Linked DNA regions of Homo sapiens. The protein of the gene in region 2 purifies or fractionates together with the protein of the main gene of each other region. This does not show direct contact. Each region holds a gene or a part of one and is shown on either strand. Other genes may lie near its edges. The genes, in order: MPRIP, MYO1C, CORO2A, AFAP1, E2F3, SCAF8 and TMOD3.

Region 1 (3,500 bases), about 16 Mb from region 2:
TTCCTGGGAGAAGTTGGTATGGTAGGTGGGGACAGGCTGCTATGAAATGGAAACCAGCCAACCCTGGACCTTCCTGCGTTGCTGCCAGGTGGGACCCACAGGAAGGAAGAGAGAGCACGTGGGCAGAGGCTGGCTGTGTCTGGTCTGGAGGGACACGGTGAAAGGCCCGTAAAACAGGGATGAGGGACTTGTCTGCTGGAGGGAACCAAGGCCATTCCACATATAGGGAGTGGCCTGGCGGGCACCGGGCTGGGAGCCTCTCAACCCACAGTGGGTTGGGGGTACATAGAGTCCACTTCTGGGAGCTGGGGGTTGGGACTCTGCCACTAGCCAGCTGACAACCTCCAGCTGGTCACTTAATGCTCAGGTGTTGACTGAGGGAGTAAGATCAGGCTACAGGCTCCCCTTCCTTCTAGCCTGTGTCTTCTTTCTTACTCTTTTCTTAAAGAAGGGCACCAATGACTTAGCACCTCTGCTAACTCTAACAAGTACATGACAGGAGACCTGCTTTCCAAACTCTCCTGTGCCTCCCTAGAGCGACATAGGCATGCCCCAGGATGGGAGCAAGCCACACCAGGAAGCCCAGGCCTGGTTATCAGAGCTGTGCTCACTAACAAAGCAGGTGAGCGTGCTGCACAGCTGCCGGGAAGGGTGGGTGTGCAGCTATTTTGAGCACGGAGGCACACACTTTCTGTCTAAATCCTTCAAGTGGTCTGCTTCAGAGAAGGGACTGGGCCTCTCGCTGAGTTTTAAAAACTGGAAGAACGTGGCCACATTCCATTCCAAATTCAAGTGTGGGGGTTTCCCCACTCTGGGCTGATAGCCTGCACCACTTGGTTAATCTTCTTGCATGTGGATTCAAGAAAGGATACCAAGAAATCCTATCAGCATGCCTGGGCATTTTTCTCTGGGCCCACTTTTGGTGATGGCCAACTCTGAGAGCCTCAGGCAGTATTTCCAAACTCGTGGTCAGTCTGGACTTGACTGCAACCTATGTGCTGCTCTGGGTGAATGTCTCAGCTATTGCCACTATTAACTAGGCGTCCCATCCCCTCTCCCAGCGGCTCCACCTGGAAGCATCTGTCTCTTTCTGCCACCCTCACACCTCAGGACGGCTGCAGGAGCTCGGAGCTCTGGAGCTCCTGGTCCTCAGGCCCCAAGGTTGAGCTCTTCTTTCTTCCTCCCACTCGCTTCTGTTTGTATGTGGCTTCTCAGTTAACACATTTAACTAATAGGTCTTTTTTAATTAAAAAAAAAAAAAATATATATATATATGGAATACTTCATGAATTTGTGTGTCATCCTTGTAAAGGGGCCATACTAATCTTCTCTGTATCATTCCAATTTTAGTATATATGCTGCTAAAACGAGCACAACTAGTATTAATAGATCTTTTAAGTCTTTTTTTTTTTTCTTTGAGTCTACTTGCTGGGAAAAGTCTTATTTTGATCTGAGTGCTTTGGAATATTATGCAGGTAAGAGTCAAAAATCTAACAGAAGCACTGGGACATCTTTAAAGACCTAGTTGCTTCTTTGGAGAGAAACTATATGCTAAAAAATAATTGATCTTGCAAACAAATGTTAATTTAAGCCAATCATTCCTGACACCAAAAGAAGTTCCCCGATGACTGCAATCGTGGTGTGGTGGGAGCCTGTGGATGTCAGAGGACGGCTGTTAGGCCAAGACCCTGTCCCCAACGACCCAAGTGGAAATCTGCATAAAGTGATGAAATCTCAAGGTGCTGTCTATTTACAAGTTCTGTAAGTCTGCAGGGGTGGGTGAGAACACCACACCTGGGCTAGAAGCTCCCAGGCACAGGAGGGGACACTATGCAACGGCAGCTAAGGCAGCAGGGAGTGGACAGTGTCCAAGCCCCTGGGAGGGGCCTCATCCCGACCTGCATCATCTGTTTCTCCCTCCTAGTGACACTGGCCCAGCACAATCTCTGGTCAGTTCTCAACATAAGGCAGTCCTCTTTTTTCTGATTTCTTGCTCACTGTTGGTATAATGGCACCTGCATGGGGCCTCCCCTGCACCTGGTTGGCTAACCTAAAGCAGCCTCGGTGTGGAGGGGCCTCTTATGGATGCAGACAGGAAGCAGGGCATTGCTGTGCCCAGGCCCTGCCCCCATGGACCCTGCTGATTGTCTGGGAAGCTGCAGGGAAGGGCACTAGCAAGCGTATTTGGGGTCAAAGCAAAGGTTTGTGCAATTAACTTTTCAAGGTGCACCTGGATCCACCCATCTCAGTGCTGCTCTTGGTGAACTGACCACAGTGCCATCATATACACACACTTTGAAAACATAGCTGTTGAAACCTTCTCACAACTCATAATGGTTTTTAAAAGGTTTTGACTGATTTGGGGAAAGAATGGTGAAAAAGAGCTTCTCAGTTCTCCTGAGGTGCTCGCTGACAACCACACCTGTGTGTCTGGGTGGGGCCGAGTCCGTCACACAGAGGTGACATGTGAGCTGCTGTTTCCATTCAGAGCTACAGGAGTAACGGGCTGGGAAAAACAGGTGTCCTGCTAGACAGTGGCTGTGAGGATGTGTAGGCAGGAGCAGTGGCAGCCACCTGGGAGTCAGGAGCTTGCAGCACAATGGTGCTGGCTGTGTGCGCGCCTGGCTCTGCCACATGAGCGTGGAAGGCACCACCTGAACATGGCTTTTGAGGGGCCTAGTCATCCTAGTCATTTACTGGGGCAGCTTCCTGAGTGGAAGGAACATAAGGGCACAGGTATCATGGTAAACTTTTGAGTCTAAGGGATGATGCTTGACAGCCACACATGGTGGGTGTGGCCTGCAGCTACAAAGGGTGGGGCCAGACAGCTGGGCCTCCACTCAGCCCACCACCACCTCCAGGGCCTGGCATTTCGCCTTTGTGCTCCAGGACCTCAGGGGCGGGGATGCAGGACAGTTCTGGGGAAAATCTACTTGTAAAGGTCCTGGGGAAGGGGACAGGAGTGGCTGGAGGCTGTGCTCCGTGGGAAAGTTCTTCTCACCAGAGCACACATCAAATGCCAGTTCCAGAGAGGGACCCTCCGCCCGACTGTGCTCTCCTAGGGCAATCAGGAGGAGACTGCCCTCCAACTGGGCCCTGGCTCTCCGGGGTGTTGCTGTGAGTACAAGGCTGTCCTCAGGCAGCTGCCTCAGATTTGGGCTGGGACTGGGCCAGACGGGGTTCCCGGGGCAGGGGCAGGAAGGAGGCAAGGCTGGCAAGGGGATTGGGGGCTGCTCTCAGGAACACGGAGAGGCCGCATTAGGCAGGCAGGGAAGTGCTGGGAAGACTACGTGCTCCTCTCCCACCAGGGACCCTGGCGGCCCTCCTGCTAGTTCTCCTCCTGGTGGAGGACACTGGGGGATGCCGAACAAGAGGCTAAGCCTGCGGCCCAGGCCCTGCTGAGACCACACCATGGCTAGCAAGTAGAGGGACAGCAGCATATCCCCTCAATTCTGCCTGCACGGTAGCTGAGCCAGACGTCCCCACACCCACCCCATTAT
Region 2 (3,500 bases):
TTCACCATGTTGGCCAAGATGGTCTCGAACTCCTGACCTCAGGTGACCTGCCCACCTCAGCCTCCCCAAGTGCTGGGGTTACAGGCGTGAGCCACGGCGCTCGGCTCTCACTCTGCTTCTCTGAGCAGCCTTCCTTCCATCCCTCCAGCATTGCTGAGGGAACCAGGCGAAGGGGAGTGATGGGAGTAGGGGCTGCCTTGGAACAGCTGCCCCTCCACACCCGAGGGCAAGGGCCCGGCCTCACCTCCTCCCCCTTGGCGATGATCTTCCTGTGTGTCAGGGCTTCTCGCAGCGTCGAGCCTTCCACGCTGAGGAGCTGCCAAGGGCAGGCGAGGACACGGTGAGGGTGCACCCCCAGCCCCCGCCCCCGCCGTCCTCCCGTCGCCCTCTGCCCGCCCCACTCACCCTGGTCAGATACTTGAGCTGGTTCTCGGTGGTGACCTGGGCATTGCTCTCCTCGTTGGCAGCAAAGTGGATGTTGCCCAAATGAAGGACGCTGGCCACGATGCTCAGCAGGTCCTGGGGGAGCAGGCCGGGGGCAGGAGGGGGTGAGAGGGGCCAGAGAGCCCCAAGAGGGCAACTAGCAGATGGCCATGCAGGGGTGGGTGGTGAAGTGTCGGAGAGAAGGGGCTGGAAGTGGGAATGGGTGTTAAAGGTGGAAGGTGATTCTGCGGGTGGGATGGGCACGGTGGCTGACGCCTGTAATCCCAGCACTTTGGGAGGCTGAGGCGGGAGGATCATCTGAGGTCAGGAGTTCGAGACCAGCCCAGCCAACATGGCAAAACCCCATCATTATTAAAAATACAAAAATTAGCCAGGTGTGGTGGCAGGTGTCTGTAATCCCAACTACTCAGGAGGCTGAGGCATGAGAATCACTTTAACCTGGAGGCAGAGGTTGCAGTGAACTGAGATCGCACCACTGCACTCCAGCCTGGGCGAAAGAGCGAGACTCCATCTCAAAAAAAAAAAAAAAAAAAAAAAAGGGATTACTGGCCCACGCCTGTAATCCCAGCACTTTGAGAGGCTGAGGCAGGCGGATCACCTGAGGTCGGGAGTTCGAGACCAGGCTGGCCAACATGGTGAAACTCCGTCTCTACTAAAACTACAAAAAATTAGCTGGGCGTGGTGGCGGGCGCCTGTAATCCCAGCTACTCGGGAGGCTGAGGCAGGAGAATTGCTTGAACCCAGGAGGCGGAGGTTGCAGTGAGCTGAGATTGCACCACTGCACTCCAGCCTGGGCAACAAGAATGAAACTCCGTCTCAAAAAATAAAAAACAAAAAAAAAAGGAGATTTTGGGGGTGTGACAGGAGGAAAGCGAGGGTCCCGGAAGAGGCCTCACCTCCACTTCATCCTCGGTGAAATCAATGACTGTCAGAGCCTTCCTGACGACCTTCCAGTCACTCTTGTCGTTGATGGAGGAGACTTTGGCACACTGGCCCTGGAGGAAGGGCACAGCTGGGTTGCCAGCCCTGGCACCAGATCCCTGGGTGGCACCTGCCCTCCCTGCCAGCCACTCACCTTCACCAGGTACAGGTAGCTCTGGGGGTTCCGTTCCAAGCCCAGCCTGCGAAGAGTCTCCTCCTCGCCCCCCTCCAGCAGCTGGTAGAAGATGTGGAAGTTCCGCTCCCCATGATTCTGGTGCACCACTCGTGACTTTTCCAGGAGGTAACTGAGGATGTGGCCACCCACGGGGGCACCCTGTGGGCAGGGCAGGGCATGAGGCCGGGTCACGGGGACTGGGAAAAGAGCCCACCTGCCCCTCTTCTCCCCTGCACTCCTGGGCTTTGGCAGCCAGACCTGGATGCCAATTCCAGCCCTGCCACTAGCTGCGTCGGCTCAGGCACGCCACCCACGCTGGACTCAGTTACTTCATCTAGGAAATGGGGAGATTCAACTCCAACGACCTGGCTGCTCCACCTGGATGCCTGACAGGTATCGCAAATTCAACAGGCCTGAAGCTCAACACCGGACCTTCTCCCTCTTCAAACAAGCTCCTGTTAGTGTCTGCCCTCCTTGGTCAGTGGTGACTACATCCTTCTCGTTGTTCAAGCCAAGGACTTGGCAGTCCTCCTGGAAGCCTGTGTTTCTCCAAACCCTACATCCAATCAGGCAGCTCATCCTGCTGCCTTAACCTTTAAAACATCCAGAATCCAATCACTGCTCGCCACTTCCACTGCACCACACTGGTCTGAGCCAATGTCACCTGTCACCTACATGATGACATCAGCCCCCTAACCGTTTTCCCTGCTTAGCCTGGTTCCCCTCCCATCTATTCGTCTACTCCCAATCTCCCAGTGAAGCAGCTAAAGTCATTTTTTTATTTTTTATTTTTGGAGACAGGGTCTTGCTTTCACCCAGGCTGGAGTGCAGTAGTGCAATCACAGTTCACTGCACCCTCGAACTCCCGGGTTCAAGCAATTCTCCTGCCTCAGCCTCCTGAGTAGCTGGGACAACAGGCACACACCACCGTGCCTGGCTAATTTTTGTATTTTCAGTAGAGGCAGGGTTTCACCATGTTGGCCAGGCTGGTCTTGAACTCCCGACCTCACGTGATCCACCTGCCCCAACCTCCCAAAGTGCTCAGATTACAGGCATGAGCCACCTCACCCAGCCCGATGACTCCCCTTCTACTCAGAGTTAAAAAAAAAAAAAAAAAGTTCTTGCAACAACCCAAAAGGGCCTGCACCGTTTGGCCTCTCTCTGTTCGCGGGCCCCTGCTCTCTTCTCTGGCCGCTGTGGCCTCCGTGCTGTCCTGGAACACTTCCAGCACCCTCGTATCTCAGGCCTTTGTCCTGGCTGTTCCGTTCCCGCTGCCTGGACAGGCACCTGCACAGCCTGCTCCTATCTCCATCAAGCCATTATTTTCTATTTTTTTTAGAGACAGGGTCTCACTCCGTAGCCCAAGCTGGAGTACAGTGGCATGATCATAGCTTAGGGTAACCTTGGACTCCTGGCCTCAAGTGATCCTCCTGCCTCAGCCTCCAGAGGAGCTGGGACAACAGACATGTGCCACCCTACCCAGCTGTCAAGCCTTTATTAAAATGCCACTTTCTCAGTGAGGCCTACCCTAATACGACCGCACCTGCCCCCCACTCCTTACTGCATTTTATTTTCTGCCACGGCCTCAATTTCCCTGTTTATTGTTTATCACCCTGGAAGGCAGGATTTTTGTTTGCTTTGTTTGACTGCTGGAATTGCAGCACCTGGAATAGTCCCTGGTACCCAGTAGGTGCTTCACACGTGTAGAGCCTACTGAATGGGAATCCTCACGACACACACATCCATGGTACCTTGAAGTCAAACTGCACATCCATGTACTTCCCGAACCTGCTGGAGTTATCGTTCCGGAGGGTCTTGGCATTTCCAAAGGCCTAGGAGTGGACAGGGGTATGAGGGACACCTGGCACTCTCCCCCTGCCCTCCCCACCCCGCCTTGTAGCTACTGCTGCCCCTCCCCTCCCGCACTGGGCTTCTCTCCCTGCCCCTCCCCTCCCCTCCC
Region 3 (3,081 bases), on a different chromosome or scaffold from region 2:
CAATCGTGGCTCATAGCAACCTCCACCTCCCAGGTTCAAGCAATTCTCCTATCTCAGCCTCCCGAATAGCAGGGACTACAGACGCTCACCACCACGGCTGGCCAACTTTTTTTTTTTGAGACGGAGTCTCACTCTGTCACCCAGGCTGGAGTGAAGTGGCATGATCTTGGTTCACTGCAACCTCCGCCTCCCAGGCTCAAGCGATTCTCCTGCCTCAGCCTCCCAAATAGCTGGGATTACAGGCATGCACCACCATGCCTGGTTAATTTTTTATTTTTAGTGGAGACGGGGTTTCACCATGTTGGCCAGGCTGGTCTTGAACTCCTGACCTCAGAAGATCCGCCCAGCTTGGCCTCCCAAAGTTCTGGGATTATAGGCGTGAACCACCACGCCCTGCCTAATTTTTGTATTTTTAGTAGAGACGGGGTTTCACCATGTTGGCCAGGCTGGTTTCTTTCTTTTTTTTTTTTTTTTGAGACAGACTTTTGCTCTTATTGCCCAGGTTAGAGTGCAGTGGCACAATCTCAGCTCACTGCAACCCCCGCCTTCCGGTTTCAAGCAATTCTCCTGCCTCAGCCTCCCAAGTCGCTGGAATTACAGGCGCCTGCCACCACGCCCAGCTAATTTTTTTGTATTTTTAGTAGAGATGGGGTTTCACCATGTTGGTCAGGCTGGTCTCGAACTGCTGACCTCGTGATCCACCAGCCTCGGCCTCCCAACATGCTGGAATTACAGGCGTGAGCCACTGCGCCTGGTGAGACTGGTTTCAAACTCCCGACCTCAAGCAATCCGCCCACCTCAGCCTCCCAGAGTGCTGGGATTACAGGCATGAGCCACTGCGTCTGGCCCAGTCTTCCCCTATTCTCTGGACCACAGTTTGAAAATCACAGACAGGTCAACCTAGATCCTTCCAGCTCTAGTTTTCTACTGTGTTCTTTCCTCTTGAGAAGTTACAGCTCATCATGGGCCCTTAATAACAGAATTCAACAGAAGGCATCATCTGAAAACAAAGTCAATTCAGAAACTGTTGTTGCAAGAAGGCAAACAGAAAAACGGCACCATGTCCCACTGGAATCTCTTTCAGCGATGGAGAGTTTTGTTTTCTGGTAAAAAATATAGAAATAGTGGTTGTCCTTGAGGGGACTTGTGGTTTGGTTCTAAACCTCCCCATGGAGCCGAGTGGTGTCCCTGAGGGTGAGGAGGGCAGAGGTCTCTGCTCAGAGCTGCTCTGAGCCCATCCGCAAGTTTTTGATCTCCAGTTCCAACTGTTTGGCCTGGACCTCTCGCTGGGTCAACAGCTCCCGGAGCCTTCGGATCTCCTCCTGTTGCCGGTAGAACATCTGCAGCAACTGGGGAAGAAAGATCGGAAGGCAGGATCACCATGGTGTCAGGACACCAGCTGAAAGCTAAACCACTATCCCTCTTTGACTCAGAAAGGTGGAGGCGGTCACATTAACATGGCTGAGGCCTGATGGGGCTGTCACTGCATAGATCTTTTACAAACACCTTGTTTACTTCACCCAATAAATGAAATTCAAGAAGACTGGAATGTTTCAGATGTATTTTGCTTCCATAGATCCTCCATGAAATAGAGGAAAGGATGCCTGGCTCTGAAGTCTGGGGATTGGTGTTTTCGCCACCACTGAACTGTGTGACCTTGGGCAAGTTACTTACCCACTCTGAGCTTCCATTCCTTCCTCTGGAAAATGGGGTCAGAAAACTGCCCTCTGTGCAGAATGGGTGTTAGATATTGAGTGATGCCCTAAGGGCCTCGTTATCCCACTGGAACGTTGTGACACCCCTATAAGGGTGGCAGTGCTAGTGTCCCCACCGTACCACCGTGGAAACGGAAGCTTAGAGACATTCAGTCTCTGGGTCTAAGACCCTAAATTAGTACTCAGCAGAGCCAGGATCAGAATCCATCTGTGAGATGCCAGCCTCTGTGTTCTTAGCCACTACAGACTGACTTCCAGGGCTGTTGAGAGAATTCAATCACGTGCTGTATCAAAGTGCCTACCCCAGGATCTGCCACACAGTAGGCACTAAACAAATGTGGACTTTGAAAGCACAGAAAGTCCTATAATGTCAGAACTGGAAAGACTTTGATACCCACTAGGTCAAACCCTCTCCATTTTACAGATGGTTTCCCACCATTTTTTTTTTTTTTTTTTTTTTTTTTGAGACAGAGTCTCACTCTGTTGCCCAGGCTGGAGCGCAGTGGTGTGATCCTGGCTCACTGCAGCCTCTGCCTCCTGGGTTCAAGCAATTCTCCTGCCTCAGCCTCCAGAGTAGCTGGGACTACAGGCACGCACCACCATACCCAGCTAATTTTTGTATTTTTAGTAGAGACGGGGTTTCGCCATGTTGGCCAGGCTGGTCTCAAACTTCTGGCCTCAAGAGATCCACCCGCCTTGGCCTACCAAAGTGCTGGGATTACAGGTGTGAGCCACTGCACCTGGTCACCTGGTCCCCACCATCTTTTTTTTTTTTTTTTTTTAAGATGGAGTCTTGCTCTGTTGCCCAGGCTGGAGTGCAGTGGTGTGATCTTGGCTCACTGCAACCTCCACCTCCCAATTTCAAGCCATTCTCCTGCCTCAACCTCTCAAGTAGCTGGGACTACAGGTGTACGCCACCACACCCGGCTAATTTTTGTATTTTTAGTAGAGATGGGGTTTCACTATGTTGGCCATGCTGGTCTTGAACTCCTGACCTCATGATCTGCCCGCCTTGGCCTCCCAAAGTGCTGGGATTACAAGAGTGAGCCACTGTGCCCAGCCTCCCACCATCTTTATGTATGCCCATCATTTTGGCATAAGATGGAGCTCACTGCCTGTTTGTTGAATGAATTAACAAAATGAGTCAAGTGACTAGGCCAGGCCACACAGCTGGTTATTCTTCTCATGCCTCATTTTCTCCCTTCTTCTCAGCCTGGATCTGTTCCCCTCCACCCCAGCTGCCCCATGTGAAAGGCCCACCCCGTCCTCCTTCACACCTCATTCTCTGTCTTTGGTGGGGGGCATTCGAAAACGTCAAAGCCATTTGTCAGCCAGGTTTTCTTCTCCTCCAGCCTGTGTTCTGCTG
Region 4 (4,079 bases), on a different chromosome or scaffold from region 2:
CAACAACTCCATTAATGAGAAAAAAACAAACCAATTGGATATAGTGAAGATGTTGCACATAAAACAATTATGAAGAATATGAAAGATATTGCCAAAAAGTTGCTTAAGGTTTCATCATAGATACTTGTCCTTAACTCTGAGATAAAGTATATACACATGTAACTCAACTTGTTTAAAAGGAAAAAAAGGGGAAGAAGAAAAGAAACTTCCACTTTAGAATCCACATTTTCAAAGGCTTCCGTTATTTACACCATTGCTGGTAAGAGAATTTTTCTCTACTATATTTGCTTGAAAGAATTAAAGGTGTAGGGCTGAAAAGATTCTTAGAAATTATGTAGTTTACGATCCTCAAAGGTGAGAAAAATGAAGCCCAGAAGAGAAGGCCTTCCAGGAAAATTCCAGAGCCGGACGTAGACCCAGTACATTGTTTCTGTTTTTATTTTGAGACGAAGTCTTACTCTATCGCCCAGGCTGGAGTGCAGTGGAGTTATTTCAACTCACTGCAACCTCCGCCTCCTGGGTTCAAGCTATTCTCCTGCCTCAGCCTCATGAGTAGCTGCGATTACAGGCACCCACCACCATGCCCGGCTAATTTTTGTATTTTTAGTAGAGACGGGGTTTCACCATGTTGGCCAGGCTGGTCTCGAACTCCTGACCTCAAATGATCCGCCTGCCTCGACCTCCCAAAGTTCTGGGATTACAGGCGTGAGCCACCGCGCCCGGCCGACCTGCTAAGTTTTAATCAAGTACTCTGCACTATGCAACAAACATTAGGAAGTAATAGAAAAAGATTAATCTAAAAACCCTCTGGAGAGTCAAAGAATTGCAGATTTAAAATAGCATGAATACTTGGATTCATGGTATTGAAAAAGGAGCTCGCATTTACCCGCATGCACAAACTGCGCCTGCCCACCTCTATCAGAGCATTTTTCAAGCTGTGCTACAGTTAACCATGTATTACCCAAAGCCAATCTGTCCTGGCAGATCATAAGCTCTTAAAGACCAGGACTTCAGGAGAACAAGCAAAGCTTCAGAGAGAAGGGAGCCACCTCAACAGAGTCCATAGCAATGGGTCGGCATGAGCTGATGACTGGAGGTGCGGCGTAGAGTGGGGGTCTGGGGCAGCGGAGGGCAGAGAAAGCAAAAGGGCCCGCATGACACGCTAGAGGGCTAGGAGCCACAGCTGCGGTAATTAGCTCAGTTTTGTCTTGTATGCCTGTTACTTAAACACCATCTCTTGTTCAGAAAGAACTTCAGGTTGGGTATTTGGACTCCTTGAGCCTTCTGCTGTTTGTCTCCGGGATCTTTAACTCTCCTAAAAGGGGAAAACTGTCCAGTTCGATTTTGCTTCCTGGGACATAACAGGTTTTTCAAAAGTTTGATGAAAGCATTCACTAAGGAGTGATTCCACTTTCTTTGGTGGCTGAGAAATACAGCGTCTGAGGGGCAGCATCAGGTCTTCCCATCAAGCTGAGGTCGGAGTCTCCCCACCCACGGACCTCACCCTCGCTCTCCCCTCATAAATCTGACCTCTAACTGTAACTGCCTTGGCCTCATTCCGTGGGTGTGGATGCTCCTGCTTGAAACGCATTTTCCAGCCCGCCAAATTCTTGGGAGAGTTTCTTCCACTCTCCAGGCGCTGAGAGCTACAAAGTTCAATCTGGCTTTCCAGATTTTTTTTTTCTTCCCATTACTAACGGAAGAAATCAAGAAGCTCCGGGCAGTAGGGCCCTGCTCCCTCCAATCAGAGCCCAGCCCGGGGCCAGAGCAGGAAGCGCGGCGGTGGGACGCGCGGTGACAGCCCCGCGCCCCCCGGGGCCCGCCGGCCAGGGGAGAGGACGGTGCGGCCGCTGCGCGACAGCTCCGGGCCCGCGCCTCTCGCTTCCACCCGCCGGGCAGGTGAGAGGATAAATCACGGGGCGGGGCAGTGCGCCCCCACCAACCGCGCCCCCCGCGCACGGACCCCCATTACACTCGCGTCCCAGGCGGGGTCGACCCAGACGAGCCACGGGGCGGCGCAGAGCCCCACTCGCAGGGCGGCCGGGACCCACGCGCGTGGGTCCACGCAACAACCTATAGGTGACAAAACACTCAGGAAGCCGTCATGCGGGGCCAAGAAAGAGCCCCCATCCAGAGTCACGGACCCCCTCGTCCGAGGGTCCGCGCAGTCCCCTCGGTAAGTCGGACGAAGCAGTCTCGCTACGGGGGAGGGCGGCGGAGCCTCCCACTCTTGGTGACCCGGACCCCGCCCCACGAGTGGGTCTTCGCAGGGCCCCCTCTGACGCACACGGGGACCAGCCACGCCGCGGGGGCACCGGGCAGGAGCCAGCGCCCGGGTCCACGCAGTCCCCTCCGGGCAGACGCGGGGAGCTGGGGAGCAGTGGGGACCGGCCCCCACCCGCAGGACGACCGGGACCCCCGCGCGGGCCCACGCGGCGTCGCAGCAGGCGCGGAGCCCCCGGTACCACCCGAGGCCGAGACAAAGCCCAGGCGCACGGACCCCGGACCCTGCGGAGCCCCGCTCGGAGCTTCCACGCCCGGGGCAGAGACCCCCGCCGGGTCCGGAGACCCTGCCGCCAGTCGCGCCGTCTCACCTCAGGCCGCCACCTCGCAGCGCTCGCTCCTCGCCGCGGCGCCTGGGCCGACTGGAGCGCAGCTGAACAGCCGACAGAGCCGCAGCCGCCTTAACAATGGAGCCCCGGGGCGGGGCCGCCGCCGCCGCCTCAGCCCGTGTACCCCGCTCGAGATCCGGCTCGGCTCGCGGAGCTGCAGCCGGCGTGGGGCTGCGGCCGGGACAGACACCACGCAGGCGCACACGGCCCCGCCCGCCGCCCGCCGTCCCGCCCCCAGCGGAGCCGGGCGCCCAGGGCCCGCCCCCCGGCCAATGGGAAGCGAGCTGCGCGGAGTGGGCGGGGCCTGAGGGAACAAAGGGAGGTTGGGCGGGGCGGTGCTGGGACTGGGCTTGCGGGGTCCCGCGGGAGGACCCGCCTCAAAGAGCCGGCCCGATCATCGCCTCCTAGAATACCCAGCTCAACGTCTACCTGGAGTCGGCTCTACAGGACGCGCTCATCTCAAACCCAGAGCTCAGGCTTTTAGGGCAGAGAGCGAGAGAAAGGCTTGCTTTACAGAAAGGGAAACTGAGGTCCAAGGAATAGGATTGCCTGCCGCTCGAAGAAACGTAATCCCATTCACTCGTTCATCTTGTAGTCATTCAGCAAACATTTGGAAGCACGTATGGCGGGCGTTAGGAGTGAAGTAGGGCCGGGCACGGTGGCTCACACCTGTAATCCCAGCACTTTGGGAGGCCGAGGCAGGTGGATCACTTGAGGTCAGGAGTTCGAAACCAGCCTGGCCAACAAGATGAAACCCCGTCTCTACTAAAAATACAAAAACTTTGCCGATTGTGGTGGCGCGTACCTGTAGTCCCAGCTACTGGGGAGGCTGAGGCAGGAGAATCGCTTGAACCCAGGAGGTGGAGGTTGCAGTGAGCCGAGATCGTGCCACTGCGTGCACTCCAGCCTGGGCGACAGAGTGAGACTCTGTCTCCAAAAAAAAAATTTTTTTTTAAAGATGTGAAGTAGAAGCGAACTTAGGCCCTCCCTGAAGGAGCTCGGCCAAGGAGTACCTGAGATGTCTCTGCATCTCTTTAAGGCCTGATAAAGGAACCAGGAGCAAGCAAGCACTAATCACTTCGCTTTCCTGCCTCAGAGCTTTCACGTGTTTGCTGTTCCCCACCTGAAATGCCAAGTACCAATGTATTTATTTATTTCTAGAAATGGGGTCTCCCTATGTTGCCCAGGCTGGTCTCAAACTCCTGGCCTCAAGCTATCGTCTCATCTCAGCCTCTCAAAGTGTTGGGATTACAGGCATGAACTACTGTCCCCAACCCTGATCATCTTTAAAACCTCTTTCCTCATCTTATTTGAGCTTCCTGCATCATGTGACCCCCACACACTTGGTTTTTCTGTACCTCCATAGCTGCTCCTCTGTGGGTCCCAGGGACCCACCCCCTTCTCTGCCCAACTTGTACATGTCTGGGCTCAGGCCAAATGCCCTTCCATTCACAGTGGGCACTGCTA
Region 5 (3,500 bases), on a different chromosome or scaffold from region 2:
TAGAACCATGGATAAAGATATTCTGTAACTATGCAGTTGTACGTATACACATAGATAACCCATAAGCCATCATTTCCAGATTCTTATTAGAAACAAGCTGAAGACGTGTACACATCTGTCAGATACACACGTGGGTGCACACAGACATCTATGTAACAGATGAACAGCAGTCCACTTTCCAACTGCAGGGACCTCTTTAAGGATGCCGTTGCTGGATGCTCATCAAATATAAATCCTTTTATCTCTGACAGTATCTAAACAAAGTCTCTTTGTAAAGAGACTTCAAACTTCTGGCTTAGAAGCTGAGGAGGGAAGAGAGAATGAGAGAGAAGAAAACAGTAGGAGAGAAAAGAAAAGAACGTGTGGGCGTGGATGTGAAAGTGAGGAACTAAGAAACCAGGCAGTTTGAAACGACCCCCTCAGAGCCGGGGCATGGGGAGGACTCCTACTCACATCCATTGGACGTTGTTTTTAGACTTCTTCTTAATGAGGTGGATGCCTTCCAGAACGTTGGTGATATCATAAATCCTTCTCTTTTGCACTTTTAGCACTTCTGCTGCCTTGTTCAAATCCAATACCCCATCGGGTGACTGGCTCAGGAGCTGAATGAACTTCTTGGTGAGCAGACCAAGAGACGTATCATACCGCGTTTTTTCTGAGGGAGATTTTGGAGCTTAAAGAAAAACAAAAACCGAGCGGGTGGGGGATAGGGGGAAAGGTAAAGAAATGAAGGGTGTCTTTGCAGTCAAGCAAGCTCTCTTTCCCACTGCAGCCAAAGTATTAGTATCTGAAGCAAGGCTGTCGTTGCTGTTGGTGTTGGCAAGTCATAGAAAGCTATGAAAGTTTTTTATTAGAGCAGGAAGGGAAGGTAAAAATTCCAGGGTTTGATTAAAGCATTTCACCTTGAATTTCTCAAGAGTTTCTACCTTGACTTACACCATTCCCTGGCTCCAATGAAGAATTTACATATAGCGGGCGCTAAAAAATATCTGTCAAATGAATGAAAGAGTGCTGTGGCCTCAGGGGACCAGCACACACGAGGCCTACGGTGATGGAGCCAGGCTATGAGTCTCACTAGCACTGCAGGACAAGGTCTTAAACAGACCCATCTCAAATGGCCTTTCAGGCTCTGGTATCTGTGTGTGCGTGTATCACCTGTTCACCAATTTTCCAAACAATGCTTCATTTTGATAAATAATTACCTGGAAAAGTCTTCTGCCAAATCTCCCCATCTCTCTTAAAGGAAATTTCCTTACTTAATATTGTACTTGTTCCCCCATAGGTGCACAGGTCAAGGTTTTAATTTAGTGTCACACAATTTGTGGATTGCCTAATGCATGAACTAAAGGAAGAGAGAGAACAAAGTCTAATTTAGCCCTTATGTTAAATGCAAACACATACATAATGGGACTAGTTGGCTATTTCTAACCTACGTTTCTCTCTCTCCCACAAGAAACGGTAATAGTATTTGATAGAAAGAGAAACAGCCTGCAATTTATCGGGCTCAATCAATTCTTACGCTATCATATGCTGAGCTGGAGATTGAGGTCGGCACAGACACTGGTGACTCTGGCATAGTTCGTGGACATCCAGTTTGCCTCAGACTCTGAAGCAATGTCCATTAAGGGAAGTTAAAATTAAATTTGATATAGAATGGTGCCAAAAGTTCGTATTCCGAGTTGAAAAATGAAACTACATACAGTTAAAAGAAGTCTTCCCTTATGGTACCAGTGTGACTCTGTAGCCTTTCACTGGTTGTCTGCTGACATTGTATTTATTTTTTTGGATAAGCACAGAAAGAAATGAAAAAGAACAAAACATGCCAGAATTATTCACACCTTGGCATCCTTCCGGCCATAAGCTTTGAAACTTGGAAATGCCATACCAAGGAGAATAAGGAAAGAGATGAAAAGATCCTTACTTTTTGGACTATCTGGACTTCGTAGTGCAGCTCTTCCTTTGCCCTTGGGGGTTTTTAAACCATCTGAGAGGTACTGATGACCGCTTTCTCCTAGCTCCAGCCTTCGCTTTGCCTGTAATAAGAAAGTGCGATCTCTCGTCACCGGTCATATGGACAAGAACAAGAAGGGAGGCAGTTTGTGGGCTGGCCTGCCAAATGCTGCAGGCTCATGCCAGCTCTCACCCCTCTGCTCCACCCCACTCAGCATCTTGTCATTCCCTAGAGCCAGGATTCTAGCGTTGTAGGCTGGGTTGTCATGCACACTCTCTTCACCTGCCGTGATCATCCGTCCACACCCAGATGGACAAACACAGCGATCCTTCAGCATTAGGTTCAGGAGTCACTTTGTTCATTGATTCAACACATCATGTGCCTGGCATGGGGTTGGATGCTAAGAATATCACAGGCGCCGTGGGGCTTAAATTCCCTTTCCACAGTGAGTCTTTCCTGCCCATCTCCCATTCTCCGACCTGGGTTGGACCCCCTTCCTTGTGCTCCCCAAACACTCTGTGTTTATTTGTATCATGACACTTATTCGGTATTACTGTAAGACTTATCTGTTTCTCATTTCCTTTAAGGCAGGGACTGTTTCCCATTTATCTTTGTATACCCAGTGCTTGGCACAGAGCCTGGGTTTCTGTAGATTTTCAATCACTCTCTCTATATACTGTATATTCAATGAGAGAAAGGGTGATTGGATCGTAACACAACTAGTCACAGACTACAAACGGCCCTTCATCGGGAAAACAAATACTGCAAACATGCAATCTTGGGCTTCAACCACTATTACTTTCTCCATTTTCTTATCAAGCCTAGCAAATGAGAAGCCCTTATCTAAGTTTTTAATTTAACTCCAATTAAATTTTAAAATATCCACATAGCGTCTTCTAGGTACCTAGGCATTGGGCTTAGTAAGCAAGATAGATAAGGGGCTTCGAGTCCAAGAGAAAAGATAGATGGTTAAGCAGTTGTTAAGTACTAATTGTATGGGTATGACAGGTGTTTTAGAAAATAAATGGCACCAACTGGACACTCAGCACAAAAATATGTATTTAGGCTCATTTTCAGGCAGATTCTTCTAATGAGGAGATTTGCAGTTTCTTTTTTTTAAGACAGAGTCTTGCTCTGTCGCCCAGGCTGGAGTGGAGTGGCGCGATCTTGGCTCACTGCAACCTCTGCCTCTGAGTTCAAGTGATTCTCCTGCCTCAGCCCTCCCCAAGTAGCTGGGACTGCAGGTGCACGCCACCACTCCCAGCTAATTTTTGTATTTTTAGTAGAGACGGGGTTTCGCCATGTTGGCCAGGCTGGTCTCGAAGTCCTGATCTTTGGTGATCTGCCCACCTTGGCCTCCCAAAGTGATGGGATTACAGGCGTGAGCCACTGTACCCAGCCGAGAGTTGCAATTTCAAAACAACTCCCCGTGATGTGAAAACGTAAGTAATAACTTATCAGCGGAAGCTAGATATTCAGCCCCTCTATGGAAAGTTACCAGCTAACCCTGCACCGTCTACTACGATAGCCACTGGTTACTAGCTCATCC
Region 6 (3,500 bases), on a different chromosome or scaffold from region 2:
TTTAATTATTAATAATTTAGGCATCAACTTATTATAGTTACAGTATAGTGACTAGTTGTAGAGAAGTTTCCTTTAAACATTTTACATATTGATTAAAGAATTTTAATTTTTGCAGGTCCAAATTACAGAACCCAGAGCATCACAGTAAAATGTGGCACCCATGAAAGAAATCAGACAAGCTCAGAAAGTAATCACTTGCCTCAGTGGTGAATACAAGATTTTACTGACTAGTTATTTTTAGTCAAATGAAAATATTTTAAATGTTTCAAAAATGTTTCAAAAAAAATTTTTTTTTTTTGAGTCAAGAGTCTTTCTCTGTCACCCAGGCTGGAGAACAGTTGCTCAATCTTGGCTCACTGCAACCTCTACCTCCCAGGTACAAGCAATTCTCCTTCCTCAGCCTCCCCAGTAGCTGGGATTACAGGCACGCATCATCTGGCTAATTTTTGTATTTTTAATAGAGATGGGGTTTCACCATGTTTGCCAGGCTGGTCTCAAACTCCTGGCCTTAAGTGATCTGCCTGCCTTGCGCTCCCCCAAAGTGCTGGGGATTATAGGTGTGAGCCACTGTGCCTGGCCTAGGAAAAATTTTTTTAATTACTTAATTTTTTTCAGAAGTTTGAACCTTTTGTAAAATTCAGACTGTCTTATACAGTGTACAGGAGATACTGAAAGTCTACAATAAAATTTATTTATAGAATTAAAATCCATGATAGTATATAATATTTAATAATTCATATAGACTTGATCCGATATTTTAATTTCTACCTTGTTAAAGGAGACTCCCTGTTCTAAGGGAGTAAGAGTGTTGGCAGCTGCAGCTGCAGCTGTAAGTTGTGCCGTAAGAGCTTGCAACTGAACAACAAGACCAGCATCTAGGGCCTGCAGAATGGAAGGCTGGGGCTTCTGTTGTTGTATCTGTAAGGTTTGTATTAATTGTTGAAGCTGGAGAGAAAAAAATATATATTACAAAACAGGTGTTGGGTTTTTTCTGTAAGAGTGGCCACCTAAAACTTTTAGTCAGTAAAATTAATCATTCCACACTCTCTTTGAAAAAAATACACACTATTAATAAGTTAATTTTTTGAAGTTTTTCTGTGTACCTTATATAACACAGTCCTTAATAAGTTTGTCTTACTTCTGGAAAGTCAGCGAACTTTAAACAAAATAAAGTGATCTGTGACAACCAGATAAAGCGCTCATCACAAGCTGACACCTTTTTCACTAAATTTCTCTACCTTGTTCAATTAACTCTTTAAACTCAGTAAAAGGACGAGTACTGAAAATAGCAGCAGCTTTTGCTGTTATTCAGAATTACCATCTGAGCACGTACTTCCTGAAAGTTGGAGAGTCATTAAGAAATCTGTTTCTCAGAGTAGAGTCTGGCAACTAGTTATTAATAATAGTGTCATCTAGAGTTGAAGGCAACTCTTGTTCCCACCATGTACCCACCCCTGTTAAAAAACAGACACAACAGTGAGATCTTTAAGAGATTCTATAAATAAGAAAACCCTATATACATTCCAGAAATAAATGATAATCAATCTGGTTATAAGCCTGAGTTAAATCCAAAAATTATTAGTTTAAAAGAGAAAAATAAAGACAGCAAAGCTACTGATAACCAAGACAACTGTACTCTTGAAGTTCAACTTCTAGGATGAAAGGACACAAAAACTATGTAAGATGACAGTAAAGTAATTTCATGCCTACTTAAAACAGTAACACTAGGAAACAAACTAGAGTCACTTCACTATCAACTAAACATTTTCTATAAAACTATTAAAATGATAGAAACACCGTATTTCCCCTTTACACTTTTTAACTGCTCCTTTTGACATCTCCATTTTTCCCATGGCACTGTTATTCTTTTGGTCACCCAGGTAAAAAACCACTGGAGCATCCAATTTTCTTCCTCTACTCTGACTTCGCAGTCTATCAATTACTGTCTTACTGACTCTGTTTGTACTATCCCTTTCAAAGTTTCTTCTGTCAAAAATATTTATTTTAATAGGCATCTTTTAAAATAAGAACACTTGCTTTATGAATTGTTTCCAAAATATTACCACAAAATAAAATTACTAATTCTATAATTTCACCTAATATACAGCTAATATTCAGTTTCCCAACTGTCTCAAAAATGTAGAAAATAGATTCAACCTAAGAGTACACATCGGTTTTTTAAAATATTTTTAAGTCTAGAATGGCCCCATGTTTTCTATTGTATTTTCAGAAAGTATACAACCTTACTATTTTTCATAATCATTACCCTCCTTTCCAAAACCACTACTACCAAAAGAAAGATATTCTGTCTCTAGACTTCTCCTCTCTCTAATCCATGTAAAGTACTGTTAAGATCATGTGACTTCAACATTAAAAAGTCCCTGGTGATTCCCCATTGCTTAGCAAATGAAACCTTTTATTTCTGAGCCCACCATTTATAGTTTTCACAGCCCAGGTCACACTTAAGTCTGCCATTTAACTTTGTCATTAATAGCTTACACAGACTATCTTTTCCTTCAAACAACTCAACTCTACAATATCCTTTGTATCTCCAACACTGTAATGCTTTTGTACATCATTCATTCATTCCACAAAAACATATTGAACACCATCTACAACCTAGACATTGGACAGGCAGCTGTCAACAACCACAAAAAATTCTTGCCCTAGTTTAGCATACATTCCAGTGGGAAGAGGTAGAAAAAAAACCAAGTAATTATATAACATAACAGAAGGTAGTAAGTGCTAAGGAAGGAAGTAAGCAGAGGCGAGAGAGAACGGGAGTGTAAACAATGACAGGTAAGAGTTTACAGTTTTAAATAGCAGTCACGGCCAGGTGCGGTGGCTCATGTCTATAATCCCAGTACTTTGGAAGGCCGAGGCGGGCGGATCACTTAAAGTCAGGAGTTTGAGACCAGCCTGGCCAACAAGGTGAAACCTTGTCTCTACTAAAAAATACAAAAATTAGCTGGGTGTGGTAGCAGAAGCCTGTAATCCCAGCTACTCAGGAGGCTGAGGCAAGAGAATTGCTTGAACCCGGGAGGCCAAGGTTGCAATGAGCCGAGATTGCGCCAATTACACTCCAGCCTGGGTGACAGAGCAAGACCCTGTCTCTAAATAAATAAATAAATAAATAAATAGCAGTCACTGAAGGCCTTATTAAAGTGACATTTAAACAAAGACAAGAGATGAAACCATATGAATATATGAGGGAAGTGGGTTTTCAGTATAAAAAACTTCAAAAGCAGAGATCTTGGGGCAGGATTATAGGTAGTTTATTTAAGAAACAACAAAAAGGATGGAACAAGTTACAGGAGAAAGAGGTGAGAAAGCAAAGCAAAGGATAATATAAAACCAGGGTTGGGGGTGGGCAACATAAGCAAGTCTTATCATTAGTTAGAGAAGTCTATGAACTGGTGATAGAAAATGTTGGGAAGGGAACAATAGGTCAAACTGAGAACATACAAGGACCAATGAAGTGACTGCTGAAACTTGGGATT
Region 7 (3,500 bases), on a different chromosome or scaffold from region 2:
GAGTTTTGCTGCTAAAATCTAGAGGAAGGCAGGAAGGAAAAAAGCCAGATAGTAGTCCATTTTGAACCCGGTCAGTCTTTCCATGTCAATTGCTCTTACTCTTTCGTGCTCATTCATTAGTTTGTGAGCCTTTTGTGGTCTTTGACTTGAATGACCACAAAAAAGTAATGTTTTCCCCAGAAAATGTATCCATAAAAGTTTACCTATTATAGGTGTTCGTAGACCTCCACACACATGCATCAGAGCACAGTGATCTCTTTAAAGGGCTCAAGGATTTCAGGTCCTCTGTCGTTCACATCTGAAGCATCATATTCCTGTGTGGGTAGCTGAGGTAAAGATTAGGGAGTGAGAGTGAGGGAGGGCAGTAAATTTTGGAGCCTCTGTCTCAGTAGCTCTTCTGTGTACCTTTACCTCCTCTCCCTCTCTGCTCCTTATTCCTACCCTCTTTCCTATTCCTTCTTTCTCGCAGGAAGTTCTCCCCACTTTCCCACTGCAGAGTACTCCTCGTGGGAGGAAGAGGTAATGTGCCCTCCCATCACCTTATTCTTCTCATTTAGGCTATATTTCTTTAAGTCTGTGATTCTTACTGCCTTTATGCCAATTATCAGTCAAATTTCAGAGAAATGATGAGATGCTAGATTTTATCATACTATTATTTTATCTTAAATTTTGCCAAAAACAAATGGCATCATCAACTTGTGCTATCAAATATATTTGAGTGGTAAAAATATCTTGTAATATACTAAGACAATGAAAATATTCATTTTTGAAGACTGATACATGGCAAACAAATTAAATGTTGAATATGTTTGGTATTTATATTCAGTAAAATTTTATTTGGGTGCTTTAAATATGTGTCAAGGCCAAGCGCAGTGGCTCCTGCCTGTAATCCCAGCACTTTGGGAGGCCAAGGCAGGCAGAGCACTTGAGGCCAGGAGTTCAAGACCAACCTGGCCAACATGACGAAACCCATCTCTACTAAAAATACAAAAATTAGCCAGGCATGGTGACACACGCCTGTATTCCCAGCTACTTGGGAGGCTGAGGCAGGAGAGTTGCTTGAACGTGGGAGGAGGAGGTCGCAGTGAGCCAAGATCTTGCTACTGCACTCCAGCCTGGGTGGTAGAGTAAGACTCCATCTCAAAAAAAAAAAAAAAAAAAAAAAAAAAAATTAAATAAATAAATATGTGTCAACACATAAAGGATCTTTTCGGAATTGTGGGGATGGAACTTTTAAATCTGTCCCCTTGAATAAATATGCGTGTATGAGAGAGAGAGAAAGAGATGTTACCAAGTCAATTATCTGCATGCACTGTAATAGTATCAACTCCAGGCTGAGCACAGTGGCTCCTGCCTGTAATCCCAGCACTTTGGGAGGCTGAGGCGGGTTGATACGAGGTCAGGAGATAGAGACCATCCTGGCTAACATGGTGAAACCCCGTCTCTACTAAAAATACAAAAAATTAGCTGGGCGTGGTGGCAGGCACCTGTAGTCCCAGCTACTCAGGAGGCTGAGGCAGGAGAATGGCTTGAACCCGGGAGGCGGAGCTTGCAGTGAGCCGAGATCGTGCCACTGCACTCCGGCCTGGGCGAAAGTGCGAGACTCCGTCTCAAAAAAAAAAAAATGGTATCAAATCCTGCTCTTTTCATTTATCACTGCAGATGTGGTCAAAGGTGAAAAGATTCTTCCGGTATTTGATGAGCCACCAAATCCAACCAATGTAGAAGAGAGTTTGAAGAGAACTAAAGAAAACGATGCTCATCTTGTTGAAGTTAATTTGAATAATATAAAGGTAAGTGTGCTAATCAGAGTGGTTTTGTATTGCTTTGAGTTAGTTGAACCTAGGATGAGAGCTGGGCAGTTGATAAAATAGTCTAATTCTTTCTACTTTAACGTAAAGTTTTTGCTCTTACCAGTATGCTAACATAGGTTTCTTCATATTTTAGATATTGAAGTATTATGGTATAGTATTTTCTAACTTGCTTTTTGAAGAATTTATCATCTAAAAATGTAAACCCTACAAACTGTCAGAATAAATCTCAGGTTTTCTAAATACTGCCCACTTCTAAGAACATTTAGCCTCTTGGGTCTTGCTTTTTTAAAATTCGGTTCCTTAGCCAGGTATGGTGGTGCATGCCTGTAATCCCAGCTACTTGGGAGACTGAGGCTGGAGGATGGCTTGAGCCCAAAAGTTTGAGACCAGCCTGGGCAACATAGTGAGACCTGCCACTGTCCCATCTCAAAAAATAAAATAAAACCTGTTTTTTTGAGGTAAAATTTAAATATGGTAAAATTCTCCCTTTTAGTGTCCAGTTCTATGAATTTTGACAGGTGCATACAATTTTGTACAACCACCATTACACTCAAGATATAGAATATATCTGTCACCGCAAAAGTTCTCTCATACCCCTTTGTAGTCATTCTCTGACCCCCAGCTCTAGCCCCTGACAACCACTGACCTATTTTCTTTCCCTATTATTTTGCCTTCTCCAGAATGTCATATAAATTGAATCCTATAGTATGTAGCCTTTTGGGTCTGGCTTCTTAGCATAATACATTTGAGATTGATTCATGGTGAGTGTGTCAGATACGCTGCAGTTTGTTTATCTGTTCATCAGTTGGAAGACATATGGGTTCCTTCCAGTTTGGGATGTTTATTAATACAGCCACTATATACTTTTCACACACAGGTTTTTGTGTGAACATGTTTTAAATTCTCTTGAGTAAACACCTAGGAATAGGCTTTCTGGGATCTTATTTTGAGTTTTAAACAATGCAACTCTTCCTTGGAGTAAGGAAAGAAGAAATTAGGAGGACATGGGGTAATTAATTACCAAAAAGTAAACTCAAATTATCTAGATATTAGCCATTGTGTAATGGCTTCATTATAAATTCCTCATTTTAAAACTTGATTTTTTTGAAGTCGAGGACAAGTGGAGGAGAGCATCTGGAAATCTTGAGCCTAGGGAAGGAAGCTTCTGTGCTCCTCTAGGGAGTGATCCTTCCTGTGAGTAGAGGAAGGAAAGCCTCAGAGAAAGCTTATATTCATAGTTGATTACTAACTTTTTTTTTTTTTTTTTTGAGACAGAGTCTTGCTCTGTTGCCCAGGCTGGAGTGCAGTGGTGCGATCTTGGCTCACTGCAACCTCTGCCCTGCCCCAGGTTCAAGCAATTCTTGTGTCTCAGCCTCCTGAATACCTGGGATTACAGGCATCCACCACCACACCTGGCTAATTTTTGTATTTTTAGTAGAGATGGGGTTTCACCATGTTGGCCAGGCTGGTTTTGAACTCCTGACCTCAAGTGATTCGCCCACCTTGGCCTCCCAAACTGCTGGGATTACAGGTGTGAGCCACTGCGCCCGGCCTATTTTTATTTTTTTTAATTTGGTCCCTGTGTATCCCTTTCTCTAAATAAACAGTAATCATCTGAAAATAACCAGGCTAGGGGGAATTGAAGTCTCAAGATACTACTGAGAGAAACCAGCATCTTCAGTATTT

What was found.
Region 1: the proteins of MYO1C (region 2) and MPRIP purify together in Homo sapiens (affinity purification with mass spectrometry; one large-scale study listed by BioGRID and IntAct). This does not show direct contact.
Region 3: the proteins of MYO1C (region 2) and CORO2A purify together in Homo sapiens (affinity purification with mass spectrometry; one large-scale study listed by BioGRID and IntAct). This does not show direct contact.
Region 4: the proteins of MYO1C (region 2) and AFAP1 purify together in Homo sapiens (affinity purification with mass spectrometry; one large-scale study listed by BioGRID and IntAct). This does not show direct contact.
Region 5: the proteins of MYO1C (region 2) and E2F3 purify together in Homo sapiens (pull-down; one large-scale study listed by IntAct). This does not show direct contact.
Region 6: the proteins of MYO1C (region 2) and SCAF8 purify together in Homo sapiens (affinity purification with mass spectrometry; one large-scale study listed by BioGRID and IntAct). This does not show direct contact.
Region 7: the proteins of MYO1C (region 2) and TMOD3 purify together in Homo sapiens (affinity purification with mass spectrometry; one large-scale study listed by BioGRID and IntAct). This does not show direct contact.

What each region holds. Positions count from the first base shown.
Region 1 is NC_000017.11:17,167,957-17,171,456, reverse strand, and holds part of MPRIP (myosin phosphatase Rho-interacting protein), read right to left. Parts: intron 1-3,500. UniProt on the Homo sapiens protein: Targets myosin phosphatase to the actin cytoskeleton. Required for the regulation of the actin cytoskeleton by RhoA and ROCK1.
Region 2 is NC_000017.11:1,479,187-1,482,686, forward strand, and holds part of MYO1C (unconventional myosin-Ic), read right to left. Parts: intron 3,373-3,500; coding exon 3,292-3,372; intron 1,700-3,291; coding exon 1,520-1,699; intron 1,440-1,519; coding exon 1,341-1,439; intron 520-1,340; coding exon 406-519; intron 317-405; coding exon 245-316; intron 1-244.
Region 3 is NC_000009.12:98,123,557-98,126,637, forward strand, and holds part of CORO2A (coronin-2A), read right to left. Parts: coding exon 2,993-3,081; intron 1,350-2,992; coding exon 1,218-1,349; 3' UTR 1-1,217.
Region 4 is NC_000004.12:7,937,062-7,941,140, forward strand, and holds the start of AFAP1 (actin filament-associated protein 1), read right to left. Parts: upstream 2,801-4,079; 5' UTR 2,595-2,800; exon of another isoform or gene 1,940-2,594; intron 1,729-1,939; exon of another isoform or gene 1,592-1,728; coding exon of another isoform or gene 1,531-1,591; intron 1-1,530. UniProt on the Homo sapiens protein: Can cross-link actin filaments into both network and bundle structures. May modulate changes in actin filament integrity and induce lamellipodia formation.
Region 5 is NC_000006.12:20,478,379-20,481,878, reverse strand, and holds part of E2F3 (transcription factor E2F3), read right to left. Parts: intron 2,034-3,500; coding exon 1,922-2,033; intron 674-1,921; coding exon 454-673; intron 1-453.
Region 6 is NC_000006.12:154,799,416-154,802,915, reverse strand, and holds part of SCAF8 (SR-related and CTD-associated factor 8), read right to left. Parts: intron 946-3,500; coding exon 769-945; intron 1-768. UniProt on the Homo sapiens protein: Anti-terminator protein required to prevent early mRNA termination during transcription. Together with SCAF4, acts by suppressing the use of early, alternative poly(A) sites, thereby preventing the accumulation of non-functional truncated proteins.
Region 7 is NC_000015.10:51,892,153-51,895,652, forward strand, and holds part of TMOD3 (tropomodulin-3), read left to right. Parts: intron 1-1,662; coding exon 1,663-1,793; intron 1,794-3,500. UniProt on the Homo sapiens protein: Blocks the elongation and depolymerization of the actin filaments at the pointed end. The Tmod/TM complex contributes to the formation of the short actin protofilament, which in turn defines the geometry of the membrane skeleton.